2 separate regions of the Homo sapiens genome follow, and region 1 is linked to region 2. Evidence: fine-mapped expression QTL. A gene starts in region 2. The other region holds a variant in brackets. All regions are shown on one strand. Distances are from middle to middle.

The links. PIP is the estimated chance that this variant, and not a neighbour inherited with it, causes the effect. A credible set is the group of variants that fine-mapping cannot tell apart.
Region 1: its variant is the best candidate, but not a certain one, in a credible set for the expression of RHOF in platelets (CEDAR, PIP 0.82).

What each region holds. Positions count from the first base shown.
Region 1 is chr12:121,833,671-121,844,506 of GRCh38, reverse strand. It overlaps HPD (4-hydroxyphenylpyruvate dioxygenase), which reads left to right. Exons shown (of 14, transcript NM_002150.3): 12 at 675-797; 13 at 4,459-4,575; 14 at 4,669-4,980. The coding sequence ends at 4,779. Among named protein-coding and RNA genes, the nearest start is that of TIALD, 17 kb to the left of the region's middle. RefSeq lists enhancers at 3,648-4,317, 4,989-5,659 and a silencer at 4,827-5,026. The variant A/TA (reference allele first, on the strand shown) is at 6,432.
Region 2 is chr12:121,788,956-121,799,791 of GRCh38, reverse strand. RHOF (ras homolog family member F, filopodia associated) reads left to right here and starts at 6,104. Exons shown (of 5, transcript NM_019034.3): 1 at 6,104-6,296; 2 at 6,553-6,640. The coding sequence starts at 6,159. It overlaps LINC01089 (long intergenic non-protein coding RNA 1089), which reads left to right. Exons shown (of 4, transcript NR_152740.1): 4 at 3,550-4,525. It also overlaps a transcript of SETD1B not described here. RefSeq lists enhancers at 1,332-1,873, 4,110-4,279, 4,575-5,115, 5,660-5,709, 5,656-6,196 and 7 more and a silencer at 6,190-6,729.

The DNA.
Region 1 (10,836 bases), 45 kb before region 2:
AAAAGTGCTGGGCTTACAGGCGTGAGCCACCACACTCGGCCTAATAGATCCTTAATCGTTTCATGCCTCAGTTTCCCCAGCTATGAAATGGGAGAATAGTCCTTCAGCTGCCTCAAAAGATTGCTGCATGGACATAATGAGGGAATACGTAGAAAGTGCTCAGGCCGGGCTCAGTGGCTCACGCCTGTAATCCCAGCACTTTGGGAGGCCGAGGTAGGTGGATCGCCTGAGGTCAGGAGTTCGAGACCAACCTGGCTAACATGGTGAAACCCCATCTCTACTAAAAATACATAGCTGAGTGTGATGGTAGTCACCTGTAATCCCAGCTACTCAGGAGGCTGAAGCAGGAGAATCGCTTGAACCGGGAGGCAGAGGTTGCAGTGAGCTAAGATCGTGCCACTGCACTCCAGCCTGGGCAACAGAGACTCCATCTCAAAAAAAAAGAAAAAAAGAAAGTGCTCAAGGCAGGCACATGGTGAGTGTTCTATAAATCTAGCAGTTGTTGTTCTAACGGGGCCCATGACAGAGAAGAAAGGGGAAGAGGCCACACAGCATCCTGGCAGTTGAGGGGAGCTAGGATAGGGACCCTGTATCCTGATGACCCAGCACCTCCACCTGGCTAGGGGAGTTGAACTTGGAGGCCGAAGGCTGACCTCAGCTTTGCTCTGAAACAGATTCGCCACTTGAGAGAGAGAGGCCTGGAGTTCTTATCTGTTCCCTCCACGTACTACAAACAACTGCGGGAGAAGCTGAAGACGGCCAAGATCAAGGTGAAGGAGAACATTGATGCCCTGGAGGTGAGGCCCAGGCAGGATCCGCAGCCTTGTGGGGGGAGTATGAGCTCTGCATTGCATCTTTTCAGAAATATTGTCTCAGCCCGGAGGGGAGCCCAGACCAAGTCCCTGCTGGCAAAGGACATTTATTCTAGGGTCTATGTGGGAGGAGGAGACAGATGACAAACAAATAAACAATAAAAGCACGGTCAGAGATAGTCAGTGCAGGAAGTTCAAACAGGCAGCCTGGGGCTGCTTTACAGAGACTGGTCAGGGAGGGCCTCTCTGAGGAGGTGACATCTGAGTGAAGTCTAGATCATGAGCGGGAGCTGGCCATGTGAACAGCGGGAAGAAAGGCATTCCTGGCAGAGGGATCAGCAAGGGCCGAGGTAGGAGCATGCCCTGAGCGTCTGAGGAACAGAAAGAATAGGCTAGAGTGGATGGGAGGCTGTTTTTGAGCGATGACCTAGGTCAGACAGGTAAGCAAGAGCCAGTTCCTCTTGTGAGCTATTATTCAGGAATCTGGATTTTGTTCTTTTGTGACCAGAAACCACTGGAGGGTTTTTTGGTTTGGTTTTAGCAGTGTTATTGACATATGTCACATAACATGTCATTTTTTTAAGGTGTACAATTCTATGATTTCTAGCTATTTGCTATGTTGTGCAACTATCATCAAAATCCATTTTAGGACTGGGTGTGGTGGTTCATGCTTGTAATCTCAGTACTTTGGGAGGCCGAGGCGGGCGGATCATGAGGTCAGGAGTTCGAGACCAGCCTGACCAACATGGTGAAACCCTGCCTCTACTAAAAATACAAAAATTAGCCAGGCGTGGTGACACATGCCTGTAATCCCAGCTACTCAGGAGGCTGAGGCAGGAGAATCACTTGAACCCGGGAGGCGGAGGTTGCAGTGAGCCGAGATTGCGCTACTACATTCCAGCCTGGGCGACACAGTGAGACTCTGTCTCAAAAAAAAAAAAAAAAAAAAAAAAGATCCATTTTAGGACTAGGTATGGTGGTTCATGCCTGTAATCCCAGCACTTTGGGAGGCCAAGGCAGGTGGATCACTTGAGGTCAGGAGTTTGAGACCAGCCTGGTCAATATGGCGAAACCCCCATCTCTACAAAAAGAAAAAAAAAAATTAGCTGTGCGTGGTGATCTGTGTCTGTGGTCCCAGCTACTGGGGAGGCTGAAGTGGGAGAATCACTTCAACCCAGGAGGTAGAGGCTACAGTGAGCCATCATCAGGCCACTGCACTCCAGCCTGGGTGATACCCTGTCTAAAAGAAAAACAAAAACAGTTAGGCCAGACACAGTGGCTCACACCTATAATCCCAGCATTTTGGGAGGTTGAAGTGAGAGGATTGCTTGAGGCCAGGAGTTTAAGACCAGCCTGAGAAACACAGGGCGACCCTGTATCTACAAAAAAAACAGTTTTAAAAAATTAGCTGGGCATGGTGGTTCGTGCCTGTAGTCCCAGCTACTCAGGAGGCTGAGGTGAGAGGATCACTTGAGGCCAGGAGGTCAAAGCTGCAGTGAGCCATGATCAGGCTACTGCATTCCAGCCTGGGCAAAAAATCAATTTTAGAACATTTTTGTCACCCCAAAAAGAAACCTTGAGCCTCTTAGCCAGCACCTCCCAACCCCCTCTGTTCCCTTCCCCCCTCCCACCCCAGCCCTAGGCACCATTAATCTACCTTCAGTCTCTATAGATTTGCCTATTCTGGACATTTCATCAAAAGGAATCACAAAGTCCAGGCACGGTGGCTCATGCCTGTAATCCCAGCACTTTGGGAGGCTGAGGTGGGCGGATCATGAGGTCAGGAGTTCAAGACCAGCCTGGCCAACATGGTGAAACCCTGTCTCTACTAAAAATACAAAAATTAGCTGGGTGTGATAGCAGATGCCTGTAATCCCAGCTACTGGGGAGCCTGAGGCCGGAGAATTGCTTGAACCCAGGGAAGGGGAGGTTGCAGTGAGCCGAGATCGCGCCATTGCACTCCAGCCTGGGCGACAGAGTGAAACTCCATCTCGGAAAAAAAAAAAAAGGAATCACAAAATAGGCCTATTGTGAGCAGCTTCTTTCCCATAGCATGTGCTCAAGGTTCATCTGCGTGGGGTGTGTGTCAGTGCTTCGTTCCTTTTTGTGGCTGAAAAATATCCCATTGTATAGATAGACACACATTGTTTATCTATTCCTCGTTGATAGATATTTGGGTTGTTTCCACTTTTGGGGTGTTATACGTAATGCTACTGTGAACATCTATGTACAAGGCTCTGTGTGGACGTGTTTTCAATGCACTTTGGAATATATCTAGGAGTAGCTAGGTCACATGGTAATTCCATGTTCCCTTTTGTTTGTTTAGAGATGGAGTCTTGCTTTGTTTCCCAGGCTGGGGTGCAGTGGTGCGATCTTGGCCCATTGCAACCTCCAGCCTCCTGGGTTCAAGCAATTCTCCTGCCTCAGCCTCCCCAGTAGCTGGGATTATAGGCGCCCGCCACCACGCCCAGCTAATTTTTTTTTTTTTTTTTTTGAGACAGAGTCTTGCTCTGTTGCCCAGGCTGGAGAGCAGTGGCCGATCTTGGCTCACTGCAACCTCCACTTCCCGGGTTCAAGCGATTCTCCTGCCTCTGCCTCCTGAGTAGCTGGGATAACAGGCGTGTGCCACCATGCCCAGCCAATTTATTTTTATTTTTATTTTTAGTAGAGATGGGGTTTCACCATGTTGGCCAGGCTGGTCTCGAACTCCTGACCTCGGGTGATTCACTCACCTCAGCCTCCCAGAGTGCTGGGATTACAGGCGTGAGCCACCTTGCCCAGCCTAATTTTTGTATTTTTTTTTGTAGTGACTGGGTTTCCCCATGTTGGCCAGGCTGGTCTCGAACTGAGCTCAGGTGATCCACCTGCCTCGGCCTCCCAAAGTGAGCCACCATGCCTGGCCACCCCCTTTTTTTTTTTTAATCCGTATTTTAAGGAAGCAACACTATATGTTTAACTTTTTGAGAAGCTGCCAGACTGTTTTCCAAAGTGGTTGCACCATTTTACAGTCCCACCAGCAGTACATGAGGGTTCCGATTTCCACTGGAGGATTTTAAACAGGGGAATGACATGATCCGACTTTTAAAAGATCCCGCAGCAGGTCATGGTGGCTCACGCCTGTAATCCCAACACTTTGGGAGGTCGAGGTGGGTGGATCACCTGAGGTCAGGAGTTCGAGACCAGCCTGACCAATATCGTGAAACCCCGTCTTACTAAAAATACAAAAATTAGCCGGGCATGGTAGCCTGCGCCTGTAGTCCCAGCTACTCGGGAGGCTGAGACAGGAGAATCGCTTGAACCCGGAAGGCGGAGGTTTCAGTGAGCCAAGATTGCGCCACCGCACTCCAGCCTGGGTAACAGCGCAAGGCTCCGTCTCAAAAAAGAAAAAGAAAGTGTCCTGATAATGTCTGCGGGGAGGATGGATTGTAAGGATACAAGATTAGAAGCGGGCAGCAGTCTTGAATGGTGCCTTAGGAACTGTAGTAGGGGGATAGTAATAGGACAGTTTGGGGATATATTTGGAGGTGGCTGAACTGCCAGAAAAAGAGGTCATTTCCAGACTTTTGGGGTGCAGGAGCCCCTGTGGACTTTCCAAGGATCTCACCGTGCCAGCCTCCCCTAGCAGAGCCCCCTGTCTCCCGCCTAGGAGCTGAAAATCCTGGTGGACTACGACGAGAAAGGCTACCTCCTGCAGATCTTCACCAAACCGGTGCAGGACCGGCCCACGCTCTTCCTGGAAGTCATCCAGCGCCACAACCACCAGGTACTGCTTGTCCCCGGCAGGCCCGAGGGGACAGGCAGCTAGCACACTCGGTTTTCTGGGTCCTTGGCTCATCTCCTCTCTTTCCCGCCACAGGGTTTTGGAGCCGGCAACTTCAACTCACTGTTCAAGGCTTTCGAGGAGGAGCAGAACCTGCGGGGTAACCTCACCAACATGGAGACCAATGGGGTGGTGCCCGGCATGTAAGCCCCGCCCACCCCACGGAGGCCACAGCCACACAGCCACGCCCCCTGATTCTGGAACTCGCCCAACTTCCCTACTGGCTGCTCCCCTTGGGTCCCGCCCACCAGCGGACTCGGCCCCCAAGGCTCCGCCCACACTGACCACGCCCCTCGGCGGGGCCGCCCTCTGCTCCAGCCCTCCCGATTAAAGCGTGCCCCGGTCCAATACTGTGTCTGTGTTTGTGTTGCGCATAAGGCAGTAGTGCCTTATGGCAGCCAGGGGGAGGCCAGGGCGGCCGCCAGCGCCGCGGGACCGAGGAGCTGCGGGTGCCAGCGCTTTGCCAGCGGGACCACGCGGAGAGGGGAATTCTGGAACCAGGGAAGGAAGGGGACTTGCTCTGGAGGGAAAGACGGATGACACTGCTTTTGTAGAGAGATAAACGCGATTCAGACAATAAAGCAAGCGATGAGCCGGGCGTGGTGGCTCACACCTGTAATTTCAGCGCTTTGGGAGGCAGAGGTGGGAGGATCGCTTGAGGCCAGGAGTTCGAGCCCAGCCCGGTAACATAGCAAGACCCCGACCCCCCTGCGTCTACACAAATAACAAATAAAAATTAGCCTGGCGTAGTGGCGCACACCTGTGGTCCCAGCTACTCAGGAGGCTGAGGTGGGAGGATCGATTGATGGACAGAGGTCTAAGCTGCAGCGAGCCCTGATCCTGACACTGCACTCCAGCCTGGGCAAGAGTGAGACCCTGTCTCAAAAAAAAAAAAGGCAGTTGATGAGAATATGTGGAAGCGAAGATCGCAGGGGAGCTAATTTTGATAACGGAAGACCTCTCCGAGAAGGTGACATTTGGGAGCCAGCCATGGGACCATGCTCGGGAAAAGGATTCCAGGAAGAGCGAACGGAGAAAGGCCCTGAGGTGGGGTCAGAGTTTGGCAGCATCTTGTCTGCCGGCTTGATGATCTCTTTTTGTTGTTGTTGAGACGGAGTTTCGCTCTGTCCCCCAGGCTGGAGTGCAGTGGTGCGATCTCGGCTCACTGCAAGCTCCGCCTCCCGGGTTCACGCCATTCTCCTGCCTCAGCCTCCCGAGTAGCTGGGACTACAGGCGCCCGCCACCACGCCCGGCTAATTTTTTGTATTTTTAGCAGAGACGGAGTTTCACCTTGTTAGCCAGGATGGTCTCGGCCTCCCAAAGTGCTGGGATTACAGGCGTGAGCCACCGCGCCCGGCCGATGATCTCTAAAGATGAGCTGTCTTCAGTTTTGCTACCCAGAGCCCAAACCTCTGAACACAGGAGAGGGGAGAGTGTTAGACAAGGGACTCTAGGGGCAGCATCCCTGCTCATCAACTGTAGGATATGGTCCCTTGGTTCCTGGTCTCAGAGATAAAGCAGGTAGGAGGGGCCTGGTATCCCAGTCCCTGCCCTCAGCAGGGCAGTGCCCATGACCACCCACGCAGCTGCACTGCCCCAGCCTTGCCCGCAGTGAGGACTTCTTTTGGAAAGGGGCTTGTTCATACTCATAGAAGAGTGAGTGATCCTTGCAAAAGAATGAGGCAGCTGGGTCCTAAAACCCTAGGAAGGAGATTCTTTCTTCAAAACCAGGTAAGAGTTGGTGGTGGGCAAATTTGGCCTCTTTTTTTTTTCTTTTTCTCTCTTTTTTTTTTTTTTTT[A/TA]GACAGAGTCTCACTCCATTGCTCAGGCTGGAGTGCAGTGGTGTGCTCTTGGCTTACTGCAACCTCCACCTTCTGAGCTCAGGTGATCCTCCTACCTCAGCCTCCCAAGTAGCTGGGACTATAGGCATGTGCCACCACGCCCAGCTAATTTTGTTTTTATTTTTCATGGAGATGGGATCTCACTATGTTGGCCAGTCTCGAATTCCTGGTCTCAGGTGATCCGCCCACCTCAGCCTTCCAAAGTGCTGGAATTATAGGAATGAGCCACTGTCTCTGGCCTCTTTCTGCTTCTAATGCTTGAGAACCCTCCGTGAGGATAAGTCAACTCAGAGCTAGGAGGCAGCAGAGCTCAATAGAAGAAAAAAATACTCTGAGTTGGTATAATGGTGGGAATTGGGGATTTTTTTCAGATTATAGAAGAAATCAGAGCTTCTGGGATCACGAACTTCAGAAATAAAGAGATCAGAGAGAACCCAAAGGATTCCGTGCAAAAAAAATACTCCCCCTCTATTCTCCTGTGACTTAATGTGAAGAAGGGAAATTGTATAACCCAGAAGGATGCAAACTAGTGGCTTACAGACCAAATGTGGCTCATAGACCTACTTCGTTTTGCCTGCATGGTTTCAAACAAATTTGAGTCAACATTTTAGAAAGTTGGGCACATATGGCCAGGTGCGGTAGCTCATGCCTGTAATCCCAGCACTTTGGGAGGCTGAGGCAGGTGGATCACTTGAGGTCAGGAGTTAGAGACCAGCCTGCCCAACAGGGTGAAACCTCGCCTCTACTAAAAATACAAAAATTAGCCGGGAATGGAGGAGGGTGCCTGTAATCCCAGCTACTCGGGAGGCTGAGGCAGGAGAATCCTTTGAACCTGGGAAGTGGAGCTTGCAGTGAGCCGAGATCACGCCTCTGCACTCTAGCCTGGGTGGCAGAGTGAGACTCCATCTCAAAAATAAATATTGGGAGGTCAAGGTGGGTGGATCACCTGAGGTCGGGAGTTCAAGACCAGCCTGGCCAACATGGTGAAACCCCATCTCTATTAAAAATACAAAATTAGCTGGGCCTGGTGGTGCGCACCTGTAATCCCAGCTACTCGGGAGGCTGAGGCAGGAGAATCACTCGAACCCAGGAGGCAGAGGTTGCAGTGAGATCGCACCACTGCACTCCAGCCTGGGCAAAAAGAGCGAAACTCCATCTCATAAATACATAAATAAATAAATAAAGCATGCAGAGCAGACACCCACTAGCTGAGAACATACTAGAGAGCCAGGCTGCCTGAGTTCACCTCTCAGATAGCCACGTGGTAGCTGTGTGACCTATGGCAAGCTACTTGACCTCTCAGTGCTTCAGTTTCCTATGTTAAGTGGGAATTATAATAATACCCTCCTCCTAGCCCTGTTGCTAGTATCAAAGACGTTTAAAACAGAGGCTGGCACAGTCAATGCTATATGAATAGTCTTATTTTGGGGGGAGGGGCTCTTGCCCACAAGGGAACCCAAGTCTGTCTGGGACCTCCCTCTCTCTGTCTGAGGTCTCTGTCACCAAGGCTGGAGAGCAGTGGCATGATCACAGTTCACTGCAGCCTTGATCTCCCCAGTTTCAGCGATCCTCCTACCTCAGCCTCCCTAATAGCTGGGACCATAGGCATATGCCACCACGCCTGGCTAATTTTTGTATTTTTAGTAGAGACAGGGTTTCTCCATGTTTCCCAGGCTGGCCTCAAACTCCTGGCCTCAAGTGATCCTTTCTCCTGCCTCAGCCTCCTGAGAAGCTGGAGAGGGGCTCCCATTTTGGCCCCCACAATACAATAGAGGCAATGAAGAAAGGAGTTATCTCTTGGGACTGAGGAGCAGAGGAAGAGGTGGATGGATTTGAGGAATAGGGAAGAAGCATCAGATTTGGTAGGTAAGGGAGGGAAAGAGAAGGTTTAAATCCAGGATCCCTGGCCTTTGAGCTTAGGTGGTCAGTGGCAGGCAGCGGTGGGTGGAGGCAGAGAACAGAAGTGTCATTGACCAAAGTAGAAAATATGACAGGAGAGCAAGTTCAAGAGAGAAGATGAAGACAGGCGCAGTGGCTCGTACCTATAATCCTGGCACTTTGGGAGGCCGAGGCCAGAGGATTGCTTGAGCCCAGGAGTTCAAGACCAGCTTGGGAAACATAGTGAGACCCTATTTCTATAAAAATTTAAAAATTGGCCGGATACAGGTGGCTCACACCTGTAATCCCAGCACTTTGAAAGGCTGAGGCGGGAAGATTACTTGAGGTTAGGCATTTGAGACCAGCCTGGCCAACATGGTGAAACCCCGTCTCTACTAAAAATACAAACATTAGCCGGGCATGATGGCACATGCCTGTAATCCCAGCTACTCAGGAGGCTGAGGCAGGAGAATATCCTGAACCCAGGAGGCGGAGGTTGCAGTAACCGAGATTGCGCCACTGCACTCCAGCCTGGGCGACAGAGTGAGACTCTGTCTCAATAAAATAAATAAAATAAAAAATAGAGATAGGGTTTCGTCTCTTCTAATAATAAAAAAACTAGCTGGGTATGGTGGTGCGCAGCTATAGTCCCAGCTACTCAGGAGGCTGAGGCATGAGAATCCCTTGAACCTGGGAACCTGGGAGGCAGAGGTTGCAGTGAGCCGAGACCATACCATTGCACTCCAGCCTGGGCAACAGAGAGAGACTGCCTCAAAAAAAAAAAAAAAGAAAGAAAAAAAGGCCGGGCACGGTGGCTCATGTCTAGAATCCCAGCACTTTGGGAGGCCAAGGCGGGCGGATCACTTGAGGTCAGGAGTTGGAGACCAGCCTGGCCAGCATGGTGAAACTCCATCTCTACTAAAAATACAAAAAACTTAGCCGGGCATGGTGGCACATGCCCGTAGTCCCAGCTACCCGGGAGGCTGAGGTGGGAGAATGGCTTGAACCCAGAAGGCAGAAGTTGCAGTGAGCCAAGATTGCACCACTGCACTCAAGCCTGGGTGACAGAGCAAGACTCTGTCTCAACAACAACAACAACAAAAAAAAAAAAAAAGAAAAAAAAAGAAAAAAGAAAGAAAGAAAGAAAGAAAGAAAGAAAGAAAGAAAGAAAAGAAAGAAAGAAAAAGCCCTGGCGCGGTGGCTTACACCTATAATCCCAGCACTTTGGGAGGCCGAGGAGGGCACATCCCCTGAGGTCAGGAGTTCGAGACCAGCATGCTTAACATGGAGAAATCCCATCTCTACTAAAAATACAAAATTAGCTGGGCTTGGTGGCACATGCCTGTAATCCTAGTAATCCCTGTAATCCCTACTCAGGAAGCTGAGGCAGGAGAATTGCTTGAACTCGGCAGGTGGAGGTTGCAGTGAGCCGAGATTGTACCATTGCACTCTAGCCTGGGCAACAAGAGCAAAACTCTGTCTCAAGAAAAAAAAAAAGAAAAGAAATTTTTAAAATTAGCTGGTATGGTAAAGTGTGCCTATGGCCCTGATCAGCTTAGGAGGTTGAAGTGGGGGGATCATTGAGCTCAGCAGATCGAGGCTGCAGTGAGCTATGATCATGCCACTGCACTCCAGCCTGGGTGACAGAACTAGACCTTGTCTCTAAAATAAATAATAAAGGTAAAATTGTATATTCCTTCAGCTACACCCCCTTCTCTTAGCTTTATTCCTCCTTACTATTGCACTTACTTTTCACATTTGTCTGGCTCGCCCTCAAGAACAGTATGTTTCCTTCATTCCTATCCCCAGAGCCTAGAAGAGTACCTGGCACATACAAGGTGCTCAATAAATATTGGTTGATTGAATTAATGGCCAGACACTTCCTTCTCTTTCCTGGCTCAGCCCGGACCTCAGCCCTCTATTCCCATGAATCCACTTACGGGAGTGTCCACCTGTCTGGATGCACAATTCCTAAAAGCAGCCCACTGTGAACGGACAATTTACTCTCCCTTCGTTTCGTTGATACCAGAAATGAGGCTGCGAAGAACACTCTTCTTCATATTGTTGCCCACTGTATCTGTCAGGCTCAATTCCTCACAGTGGAACAACGGAGCCAAGACTTTTGTGTGCATTTGATCATTTTATTTTGAGACGAGGTCTCACTCTGTCGCCCAGGCTGGAGTGCAGTGGCATGATCTCGGCTCCCTGCAACCTCCACCTTCTGGGTTCAAGCGATTCTCCCACCTCAGCCTCCCAAGTATCTGGGATTACAGGCGTGCACCACCACACTCGGCTAATTTTTTTGTATTTTTAATAGAGATGGGGTTTTACCATGTTGGCTAGGCTAGCTCGAACTCCTGACCTCAGGTGATCTGCCCTCCTAGGCCTCCCAAAGTGCTGGGATCACAGGCGTGAGCCACCGTGCCGGCCGTGTGCATTTTAAATAATGATTACTAATAGGTATTTTTCCTCCTAAAGGTTGCAGTGA
Region 2 (10,836 bases):
AGCCCAGGGAGGGCCGAACCCCAAACACGCCGGGCTGGTTCTGCGGCCCCGCCCCACCCCACCCCCCCCCCCCCAGCTGCGAGCGCGTAGGGCCGCCTGCTGGGCCGCCGGGGCCATCCATCCCCGTCTGTCAGCTTCTGTTGTCAGGCATTTGGGGCGTGTAAGTCTCTGCCGAATATAGCAGCATACGAGAGGATCCACTTGCAAGTATTTCCCAGTTGTGTGTTCTTCGGCGGGGGGAGGGCCCTGGGTGCCGCCTACTTCTGAAAGACACAGGTCACTGTCAGAAAGCCCAACTGTGCTGTGGCCTTCCCTCCAGCCGCCCCCGTGGGGCATGTGGGGTGACAGTGTGAGCCGTCCTCTGATGTCTGGCTGCTAGAGAGGCAAAGAACAGAGACCCGAGGTTCCGGCCACCTTTCTCTATGAAAGGGCCTTCCTTGACGCTTCTCCACCTTCCTGGGATTGTTTTCTTCTCCAGTCCCCGAATGGGCAGGCCTGTATATAAGCCTTGTTTCTAGAACCAGACAAAGCTGGATTTGAAACCTGGCGAGCCATTGAACAGCTATGGCCTTGCGTAAGCGGTATAGCCTCCAAGCCTATTTCTCCATCTCCGAAAACAGGGCTAGATCAGTGGTTCTTAGTCTGGAACCGGCATCAGAATCACACCGGAAGGGGGGCTCACTGAAAATGGACCACCGGGCCTGGTGCCCAAGTGTCTGATTCAGTGGGTTGGTCCTTAGGACTGGCATTTCTAACAAGTTCCCAGGTGAGGTGAGGCTGATGCTGTGGTCTGGGAACACATTTTGAGACTCCAGCCCCTAGCCTGGTAACACCTGGGGTTTTGACGCAGAAGTGCCACGTTCCACGCTTGGCACATAGTAATTGATTTCATTCTAACGCTAGCCGACTTCATGTATTGAATAGTTTCCCATCTCAGTGTCTAAGAAGCTCCACAGCTGGAGATGGCGGCCCTTGGTCTCGGAGCCCCCCTCCTTGTGATTTCTGCTTTGTGATTGCTTTGATGAACCATTTGGGTCCAGGTGCTCCTGATCACACCACCTCCCCTATTTGGGACTTGTGCCCCACTCCCGCTGTGAGGGCTACACCGAGCTCTGGGGGCCTGTTCGGATTAACAAGGAGATCTTGCTAAAGGTATCTTGGTGCTAAGTTAAGGGAGATAGTTCGCCATGGGCTAGGATCTCTCAGTGCTGGTGACCTTGGGTGAGTGTCTCCCTGTAAAGTGATAAGGATGCCTGCTGGAAAGGGTGGTGGGAGGATTAAGTGCGTTAAAGAGGCCCTCCTCCCAAGCTTTTAGTTGGCCTCCATTGTGATCGTGGTTATTGCTGGGAGTGGCTGCAGGGGGTGGGGGCTGGGCTGCCTCAGAGCTTCCCCCCGCACCAGCCCACCTGCTGAAGCACGTGTCCCTGCCTCAGGGCAAAGGGGAATCTGGCGCTCCCTGGGAAGGCGGCCAACGCGGTTCTCCTCTGGAGTGGTTGAGTCCAGCTGCAGGCCTTTCCCCATCCACAGGGGCTGTTCCATGATGGGGTCAAGATTTGGGTCACCCACCCATGGTCCGGGGAGAAGTGACTCCCCAAGGTCACAAGGCCACCACCAATAGAGCCAGGATGGGGTTCCAGGTGGCTTGACTTGGCAGCCAGCGCCTGTGCCCATGGCACCCCCTCACCCCAGCTGTCTGGGTTATTTTGGGCTTCCTCCCGTGCCAGCTGTCTGCTGGCATCCCTGCCCGGGACTGTCTGGTTGGAAGTAACTGGCGTGGTGCTGTTGGCTCCTCCTGTGAGGGCCAGGGCTGGGTCTTCAATCCCCGATGAGCCGTGCTGGGTCCAGCTCCTTTGCTGGGAGGGAAGAGTGTTCCTGCCCAGACTCCCCGCTGCCCAAGTACAGCAAGAGGGCGAAAGCACCTGATAAAAATTGAGGTTCACATTGTTAATATCCCAAAAGCCTCCTCCTTCTATACTCCCTGAAACCTGTTTTAAATTTGGCTCTGCCATTGAACCCCGTTGCTCTCACGTTACCCTCTGCCGCCCGAGGGTGTGGCGCCTCCCTTTAGAGTCTTCGTTGCTCTCCGGGTGGGGTCTTTACTCCCCACCTGCTTTGGATAATTAAGTAATTGATGTACGTCTCCCTCCCAGCTGCACCCTGGAGGGCTCCAGCCAGTTTCTCCCCTCCCTGGATCCAATCAGTGAGCTGTTGGGTGCTCAGCTGTGGTCTGGATGTGGTTCTCGGCACGGTGTCGGGACCCACCTGGCTGGACTGTACCCCTCTCTCTCTGCTTTGGTCCCTCTTCTTTCTTTGTCCCCCCACCATCACCTCTTGGGGCAGGGAGGGTGAGGCAGTTTGTCCTCCTGCTGCTGTTCCTGCTGGTCCCTCGAGGGCGCCCCGCCCACCGGTCACCCAGCGAACGCGGGGCGGGGCCGCTGCTGGCGCTGGGCCCCAGGGCTTGCAGAGAGAGGGCCACGCCAGCGGAAGGGCCGGCCAGGAGGTGGCAGGACTTGCCTTACTACTGAGTCGCCGGCATCCCCGCCTCTTCCGGCCTCTCCGCCCGGAGCCCTAGCGTGGAACATGACCTTTCGGACCCTCTGGGTGGAGACACAGCCTCTGCCTGGGCTGTGCAGTGAGGTGGCACCACCATCTCAGGTCGTCTGGCCCAGTGCATCTGTAGCTGGCATGTGACTTCCAGCAAGCTCCTGCCCCTGAGCGCTGGGAGGAGCAGGTCCAGCAATAATTTTTTTTTTTTTTTTTTTGAGACAGAGTTTCGCTCTTGTTGCCCAGGCAATGGTGTGATCTGGGCTCACCGCAACCTCCGCCTCCAGGGTTCAAGCGATTCTCCTGCCTCAGCCTCCGAGTAGCTGGGATTACAGGCATGTGCCACCACGCCCGGATAATTTTGTATTTTTAGTAGAGACAGGGTTTCTCCATGTTGGTCAGGCTGGTCTCAAACTGACCTCAGGTGATCCGCCCACCTCGGCCTCCCAAAGTGCTGGGATTACAGGCATGAGCCACCGCGCCTGGCCGGACAATAATGTTTTGAGCTGTTGCTGAGTCTGGCTTTTGTGACGGGAACTTTTAGCACTCAAGGAGTGGCCTTGTCTCTGGCCTGTCCCCGAGTGCTCATGGGCAGCCAAGGCCTGGGGACTGCTCAGGCAGGGTAGATGTATTTGCCAGGCCAGCTCCCGTCCCTGGGACCTCAGGGAGTAGCTTCATCCCTGAAGGCTGAGTGTCTTCTGCCTCATGTGGGTGGCCCCTCTGCAGGGTTCTCAGGCATCCAGGGAAGTGGGTGCCACAGCGTTGCCTCCAGCCTCACTGGGGCTGGCTGGACTTTGCTCTGACAACACAGCAGTGGCTGGGCCCCTGCAACTCTCCAGGGCTCAGTTTCCCTGTTGGCCGCACTATGGCATAGGCCCCTGTGTGGACACCGATGAGCTGACCCCACAAATGCCACCCGGCCGCTCCCCCAGGCTTCAGTGGCCTAACAGCTGTTGTGTCAGGAACCAGCTTAAAGAATCTTTCTTGCTTTCTCAAACTCTCCAGGAATTCCTGGTGACTGGAAGGGGGAGTGACTCAGGCCCTCAACCTCTAGCAGGTAAGGGAGCTACCTCCTGGGTGGGCATGCCCAGTTCCTCAGTGGGCCCAGCGCGGCCCAGCCTCCGAGGAAGCTCTGAGCAGCTGGCTTGGCTCCGAGGTATTTTTAGCTACAGATCCAGCCCCCCTCCATCACCACAACAGTCGAGTCCAAATCAAACGCGCTCCAGGCAGGTGGGGCTGGGGTTCTGCCAGCCTCCTGGCCAGCAGGGGTGGGTGGGCAGACTGGGGCCAGTATCAGCTGTTCTGCCTGGACCCAGGCCGGGCTGGGAAGGCACACTTGTGCTTATTTCCCGCCTCCACTTCTGTGCAAGCTTGTGCTGTCATAAGCAGAGATCACAGCCCCATTTCTTGGATGGAGAAAGTGGACACTGAGGTCTGAGGCTTTTGAGGACAGTCAGGAGCCCTCCTATGGGCTCCAGTGATGCACTCACCAGCTTCTGGTCCTCTTCTTCCACCTCTTAGAGTGCCTTGGCTCCCTCCTGTCGTCCTGGGGAACCTCGGCCCCAGCCCTGCCTCCCCAGCCAGTCACAGCTCCTCCCTGGTCACCCTGAGGGAGCTCAGGGCCCGGCTGGTAGCTGGGTTGCTCTGCTTCTGTCCCCCACTCCTGTGGAGCCTGGCAGGCAACTCCATGATCTGACCCCGGTTACCTTGACAGCCCTGCCTGGCCTCCCCTCTCATGGCCCAGCCACCCCAGAACCTGAAGAGGTTTTCTAGCTGCCGTGCATTTGCCAGGCTGGGTTACCCACCCTACTTTCCCTGCCTGCCCTCCAGTGCTGCCAGGCCTAGTGTGCCAGCCAGCGCTCAGCCTTCAGTAAAGGGTTCCCCTGCTTCCAACCTCCATTGCACTGCTTCCCCTAAGACTGTGACCTCCTGGAAGGCTGGAGCACAACTGCCTCTCAATAAACGTGTTGCAAAAAAGGAATGGATGAGTTGCTGTGCATTTGTCTAGGGGGTGCTTGACCCAGGAGATTACCCTTTGCCCAGTGCCTGAAGAGGGCGTCCACTGAGAACCTGGGGTGCCTCCCCGGCCTCCCCTTCCCAGCTCTGCTGTGGTCTTGGGATTCTGTGGGCGGTCGCTGCTGCCCTCTGGTGGTCAGACCGTGCCTTGCTTGCACTGTGAGAACCTTGACCATGGAACTGCCAGGTTGGCGGTTTTCCTCCACGAAGTGAGGTTTACATGACCCTTGCCGAGACCTTGAAAACTGGGAGTCTTCGGGGTGGGGTCGCCAGCAAAAAGATCCTGAGTCCTGCCAGCCCCTATCTGAGGAAACTACGAAGGCCACTTGCCCCCAACCATGCTGCTGTTGGGGGTTTTGTTAGAAATGGGCTCTTCCTACCCCAGCTGGTAGGATCCCACTCTCGGCCATGCTCTCGTGCCTGTCTGCCGTGGACCGGCTCCAGGGGGGGGTCCCTCTGCCACCCTGTCGACTCATCTGGGTGGTGCAGAGGGCAGTCAGCCCGCCCAGGGTGAGGAGTAAGAGGAGGGGTGGGGGTTACGGGTAATTCAGCCAGCAGCCCTGATAGCACTGCCTACAGTAAGTGCTCAACAAATAAGCTGTTTTGATCAGGGGATGGGAGAGTTGGGGGGATTCCTGGGATGAAGGACATGTGGCTGCTGGCAAGGAAACGCATTTTCTTACATTTCTTGGTGGGTGTGGGGTTATCAGTCTCCAAAGCTCCAGGAGAGGGACCAAGTTGACTTCAACTAGAGCTACTCCAACCTGCCCCTCCCTGACGACGTCTTGCGTGGTTCACGCCTCTGGCTCCTGCCGGAAGGAGGCGGCCGCCCCTAGTGGTTTCGGGCCAACCTGCGCCCGGAGCGGCCGGCGCCGAGGCGATTGCCCGGCAGAGGGCGTCAGACGTCCACCCTGCAGCCCAGGGTCGGGGTGCGGGTAAGCGGAGCCCAGTCCCTCACCCCGAACCCGCGTGCACGCTGGCGTCCCTGGCCCAGGCGAGGTGGGCAGACATGACTCTCGCGTCAGCATCTTCCCTGGTGCCACCGCCGCTACCTCCTGTGGGGAAGCTGAGGCCAGAGGCGGACATGTGCCAAGCCACACCGCTGGGGCAGTGCAAAGTTGAGGGGCTCTTCCCGGAGCTGGAGGCCGGGGGCTTCTCGAACCCGGTGCGGAGGCACAGCCAGCCAATCCGGGAGACCCTGTCTGGCCGCGCCAGCCAATCAGAGGGTCCCTGCCGAAGGCGGAGCCTGCTAATCAGGGGCACCTGGAGTCGCTGGGCAGCCACGATCGGGTCTCGCCGGCGAGGGGCGCGACGTGACGCGCGGAGGGTGGCGGTGGGTTGGGGGTGGGAGCTTTGCTCGCAGCTGAGCCCCGTTTTTCCGGTGCTGCAGTATCCCTGGGACTGAGAGCTGAATACCCACACCCAGGGCTGAGACCTTAGCAGAAAGGAAACTGAGGCTGGGAGGTCGGCCGGGAGGCTGCCTGGCGGAGGCGGCGCTGCTCCGAGTGGGCGGGGCTGGTTCCGGCCCCGCCCCGCCCCCGACCTCTTGGCTCCGCTAGTGCCCGGCGCGCCGCCGCCAGTGCTGCGGGCTCCGGGCAATGGATGCCCCCGGGGCCCTGGCCCAGACCGCCGCCCCCGGTCCGGGCAGGAAGGAGCTGAAGATCGTGATCGTGGGCGACGGCGGCTGCGGCAAGACCTCGCTGCTCATGGTGTACAGCCAGGGCTCCTTCCCCGAGGTGAGGCCCGCAGCGGGGCTGGGGTGGGGGCGAGGGACGCCCCTTACCCTGAGCCCAGAGCCCCGACCCTCAGTCCCCAGCGTCCCGAGCACGGACAGGCGGCCGCCACCCCGGGGCGCCCCCTCGGGAATTCCAGAGCCCAGCGGGGTGAGGGGGGGCTGATCCGGGACGAGTGAGGGGGGTGGACAGTGGATTCAGCTGGAACTTTGGCCCCCGCCGGCCCCACTAAGGACCAACCCGACCCCCTCTCCCGCAGCACTACGCCCCATCGGTGTTCGAGAAGTACACGGCCAGCGTGACCGTTGGCAGCAAGGAGGTGACCCTGAACCTCTACGACACGGCCGGTGAGTGCGCCTGCGCGCCGGGGGGCCCGAGGGTCCGCCCGCCCGAAGGGTTTCCCCTCCCGGGCGTCCCCCACTGGGTGTCCCCGCCCTGCAGCCTTGGCAGGGCCTTGGCCGGCTCTTCACTCCTGGAGGCCGCTCAGGGGCGCTGGCTGCGGGGCCCTAGAGGCCAAGCCCTATACGTAAGTGGAAGGTGTTTGGAGGAGGAGGTGAACTCTGGGGCCACCCTCCCAGCTCTGTGCTGAGAGCCCACAGCTCGTTCCTCTCCTGTGGTTCTAGAAAGCAGTGGGCTGCTCTTGGGCCTCCCATGGTTCCAGGATTGCTGCGCTACCTGCTGTGGTCTCTGCAGACTCTGTGAGCTGCAGATTTGAGTCCCTTGGTGCTCGGATTGCCTGGGCTGTGTGTCTGGGTCCTGTGGTTCTGGGATGCTCCCGGCTGCAGATCAGCCTGTGGCTCCAGGGCTCTGTGGCCTGCGCTCTGCAGCCTGAGGCTCTGGGGTCCTGTGGATGCGAGTTCTGTGTCTGCAGCTCCCAGGATTCCACGGCTTGCAGTTGGTGGTTCTGGAATTGCGTGGCTACAATTACTTCTGTGCTTTCCTAGTTCCCTGGGACAAAACCAGACAGTGTAGAAAATGAACTGAGGAAGGAACAGAGCACTGGGGGCAGGGGCCCCACACCAGGCTCTGCCTGCCACCTGCAGGCCCCCACGGGTGGTTTACGGATTTATGTGCAATTGCTTGGGAGTCGGTGTTGTGAGGGGTGGGGACAGGAGAAACAGTCAGTGGGAGGACCCTGACTCCCATCTGGGCTTCATCAACATTGGGGACCAAAGGTTGAGATCCCCAGGTGGGGCCTCACCCCACCTCTGTGACTCAGTGTTTAGTGACCTGCAGGGAACCACGTCATCCGGTGGCCCTCTCCGGCCAGCCAAGCCTTGTGTGTGTGAGGTGAGGTCAGACACTGACCTAGGATGGAGCCAAAATCCAGACACCTCCACCCCCACCTAGACCTTGGAGAGGACCCGAAAAGGGGCTGTCCTAGCTCAGAGCCCCCCTCCATTCCGACTTCAGCAGGTCCTATCGTGGCCTCTGAGGAACCTGTCTTTGTGGGATGTGGGCCCTGTAGGGCCAACCCCAAAACAGCGCCTGTCTCTAGCCCCTGGTGAGCTGGGAGAGCTGAGGCATCAGAGGAATTCCCGGGGCGTGGCCCGGGGGTAGTAAAAGTCATGGTCTGGGACACCTTTACTCTCATGTTTCCTGTGCAGTAGCCAGGGAGGGGCAAGGTCATTGACCCACTTTTTGAGTCAAGTGCTGCTGGGTGGAGACATTCACAGCAACCCACTGCCCTGCAAGAGGTCAGGAGGTTTTTTCTTTCCTCCTCCTCTGCCATCAGGGCCTCCCCTATCAGGTCCCGGGGTTCACTGTTCAGGGCAGCCTCCACATCATAAGAACAGGGATGGCCTTTCTGGCCTTGCCCAGAGAGAGATGCTCAAGGAACATGTCAGAGTAGATTGAGTTGTGGAGATTCTGGAAAGCTGCAAGTTGCTGTAGGAAGAATTTGTGCTAAGAGCTGCTACCAGAGGGATGGAGGAGCATCCCCTGCTACAGTCACCAGAAGCAGGCGACCACTGGCACCATGGGGATCCCATCCATGGTCCCATCCTGTTCCTGCCATCCTCTTTGGAGTCAGATCTGGGCTTTGACCCCAGCTCTATTGGCTACGTATCATTGGGGATGTCTGGGCCTCAGTTTCCTGATCTGTCATGAGCACTAAGAGGGTCATGAGGATTAAATCAGATTAATATATGATGTCCACCAGCCTGCCCAACATGGTGAAACCCCATCTCTACTAAAAATCCAAAAATTAGCTGGGTGTGGTGGTGGGCACCTGTAATCCCAGCTACTCGGGAGGCTGAGGCAGGAGAATCGTTTGAACCCGGGAGGCAGAGGTTGCAGTGAGCCGAGATTGTGCCATTGCAGTCCAGCCTGGGTGACAGGGCGAGACTACATCTCCCAGCACTTTGGGAGGCTGAGGCAGGAGGATTGCTTGAAGCCAGGAGTTCAAGACCAGCCTGGGCAACATGATGAAACCCCGTCTCTACTAAAAGTATAAAAATTAGCCAGGCGTGTTGGCACATACCTATAGTCCCAGCTACTCGGAAGGCTGAGGCAGGAGAATTGCTTGAACCCAGGAGGCGGAAATTGCAGTGAGTCAAGATCACGCTACTGCACTCCAGCCTGGGCAACAGAGCGAGACCCTGTTTCAAAAAATAAAAATTAAAAAAAATTAAAAAGATCCTCCTACCATCCCTGCCCAGCCCTAGCTCAAGCCTGTGCTTTGGAATCTACGGTGCCATGCCCCAAGCTGACCCCCAGACCCTGCTGCAGCGGGGAGATCTATCTTCCCTGGCAAGTCTCTTCCAAGCAGCAGAGAAGCAGGGCTCAGGGGAGGTGGCTAGCCTCACAGTCTGACAGACCCCAAGGAGGGGCACCCAGGGAGAAGAGATCTGGCTGCTCCCTGTAGGGTATCCCCCCGTGACCAGGGAAGGCTTGCTCATAGGAGGAAATCCCCTGGTCAGTGAGTGCCACCAGGGAGAGCCCAGGTCCCAGTGCTTGTCATGGAGCAAGGCCTGGAAGGTGATGGAATGAATGGGTAGTGGATCCGAATGCCGGAGATGATTCATCTCGGCCTGCAGGTGGACGGCTCTCAGGAGAACAGGACAGAAAGCCATGGCCAGGCGGCCACGTAGAGAGAGGCAAAGGCCAAGAGGGTGAGGGAATGGCCAAGCCAGAAATGAGTCTAGTAAACGTAGTTGTAGAAAGTTCTAGAACCCAATGGGCCACACACAGTGGCGGAAGGGGCATCTTCCCGACTGGTGGCCACCAGAGCTGTGAGACAGGGGTGGCTCTCAGAGGCTGAATTTCTCCACACCCAGGACCAAACGCTGGTCCTGGGCAGGGGCCGGACGCTGCCCACAGGGGCCCTCGTGGAAGGCCCGTGTGGCTGTCTCCCTCCTGAGGAAGTAGTTACAGACACCACAGCGGAGGGAGGGCAGATCGGGTGACGGGGCTCGCAGGGCTCAGAAGGGAAGGGGCGGGGGCCATGGCACTCACTGCTCTGTCGGCCTCACCGGGGCCCTGACATCCTCTGAGGCAGGAAGCTGCGGTGAAGTCTGAAGTTTCCTGGGCCGGGGGAGGCGGGGTGAGGTGGGCTGTGAAGACACAGACGGGAGAGTGAGCTCATCAGGGCCAAGGTGTGGGGTCCAGGGTTAGAGGGGCACAGGATGGGATAGGGGTTGCCCGGGGAGCGGTGGTCCCCTTTTCAGCCTGAGATGGGAACAGAAAGAAAATTGTTAGGCAATGGAGTAGGATTTGCTAAGACAAGGAACCAGGGACAGATGTGTGTTGTGAGCCCCAGAAGCACCGGAGGCCTGGGCTGAGACAAGGCTGGGGTCACCCAGAAGGTGGTCTCAACTCCCAGCTGGGGCTGCCCAGCCCCTGTCTCCCTGGGAAAGCACAGGTGGGCGGCCCCCAGCAGAGTGAGTAAAAGTGGGTTCCTCTTCTGGCAGCTTCACTTCTCATGCTGCCAGTACCCCTCCCTGACCAACGCCGCAGCTGGAGCTGGGGTCCACCCGCCCTGTGTGTCCTCCTGCAGATTTGAGGTCTTTTTTCCTCAACTCTGCTCTGGGCCTTAGAGACCCCTGTCCCTGGAAGCAGGACTTCCTTGGCAAAGCCTCATCCCACCAAGAAAATAGCCCTGTGTGCGGCATGAGCCTCCCTTCCGCCCAGCCCTGCCGCACCGCCTGAGTGCACGTCAGGACGATGGGCGGCTCTAGGGGGAGCCCAGGCCTAGAGACTTCCTCACCAGAAGCACGTGCATCCTTTGCATGTAATTCCTGGGTTTTTTTTTGAGGTGGGGAATGGTTAGAGACAGGGTCTCGCTCTGTCACCCAGGCTGGAGTGCCATAGCATGATCATAACTCATTGCAGCCACAGCCTCTTGGGCTCAAGTGATCCTCCCATGTCAGCCTCCCAAAGTGCTGGGATTACAGGTGTGAGCCACCACGCCTGGTCTACCTGGGCTGTTTTAACCTCTAAGCCCATCTGCAGAGGCTGGATGGGCCCCCTCTGTGACTACGGGCAGGTGACATGGACCCTTTCAGCCCTGGTATCATTTTAGGTAGAATGTGGAGGGTAATGG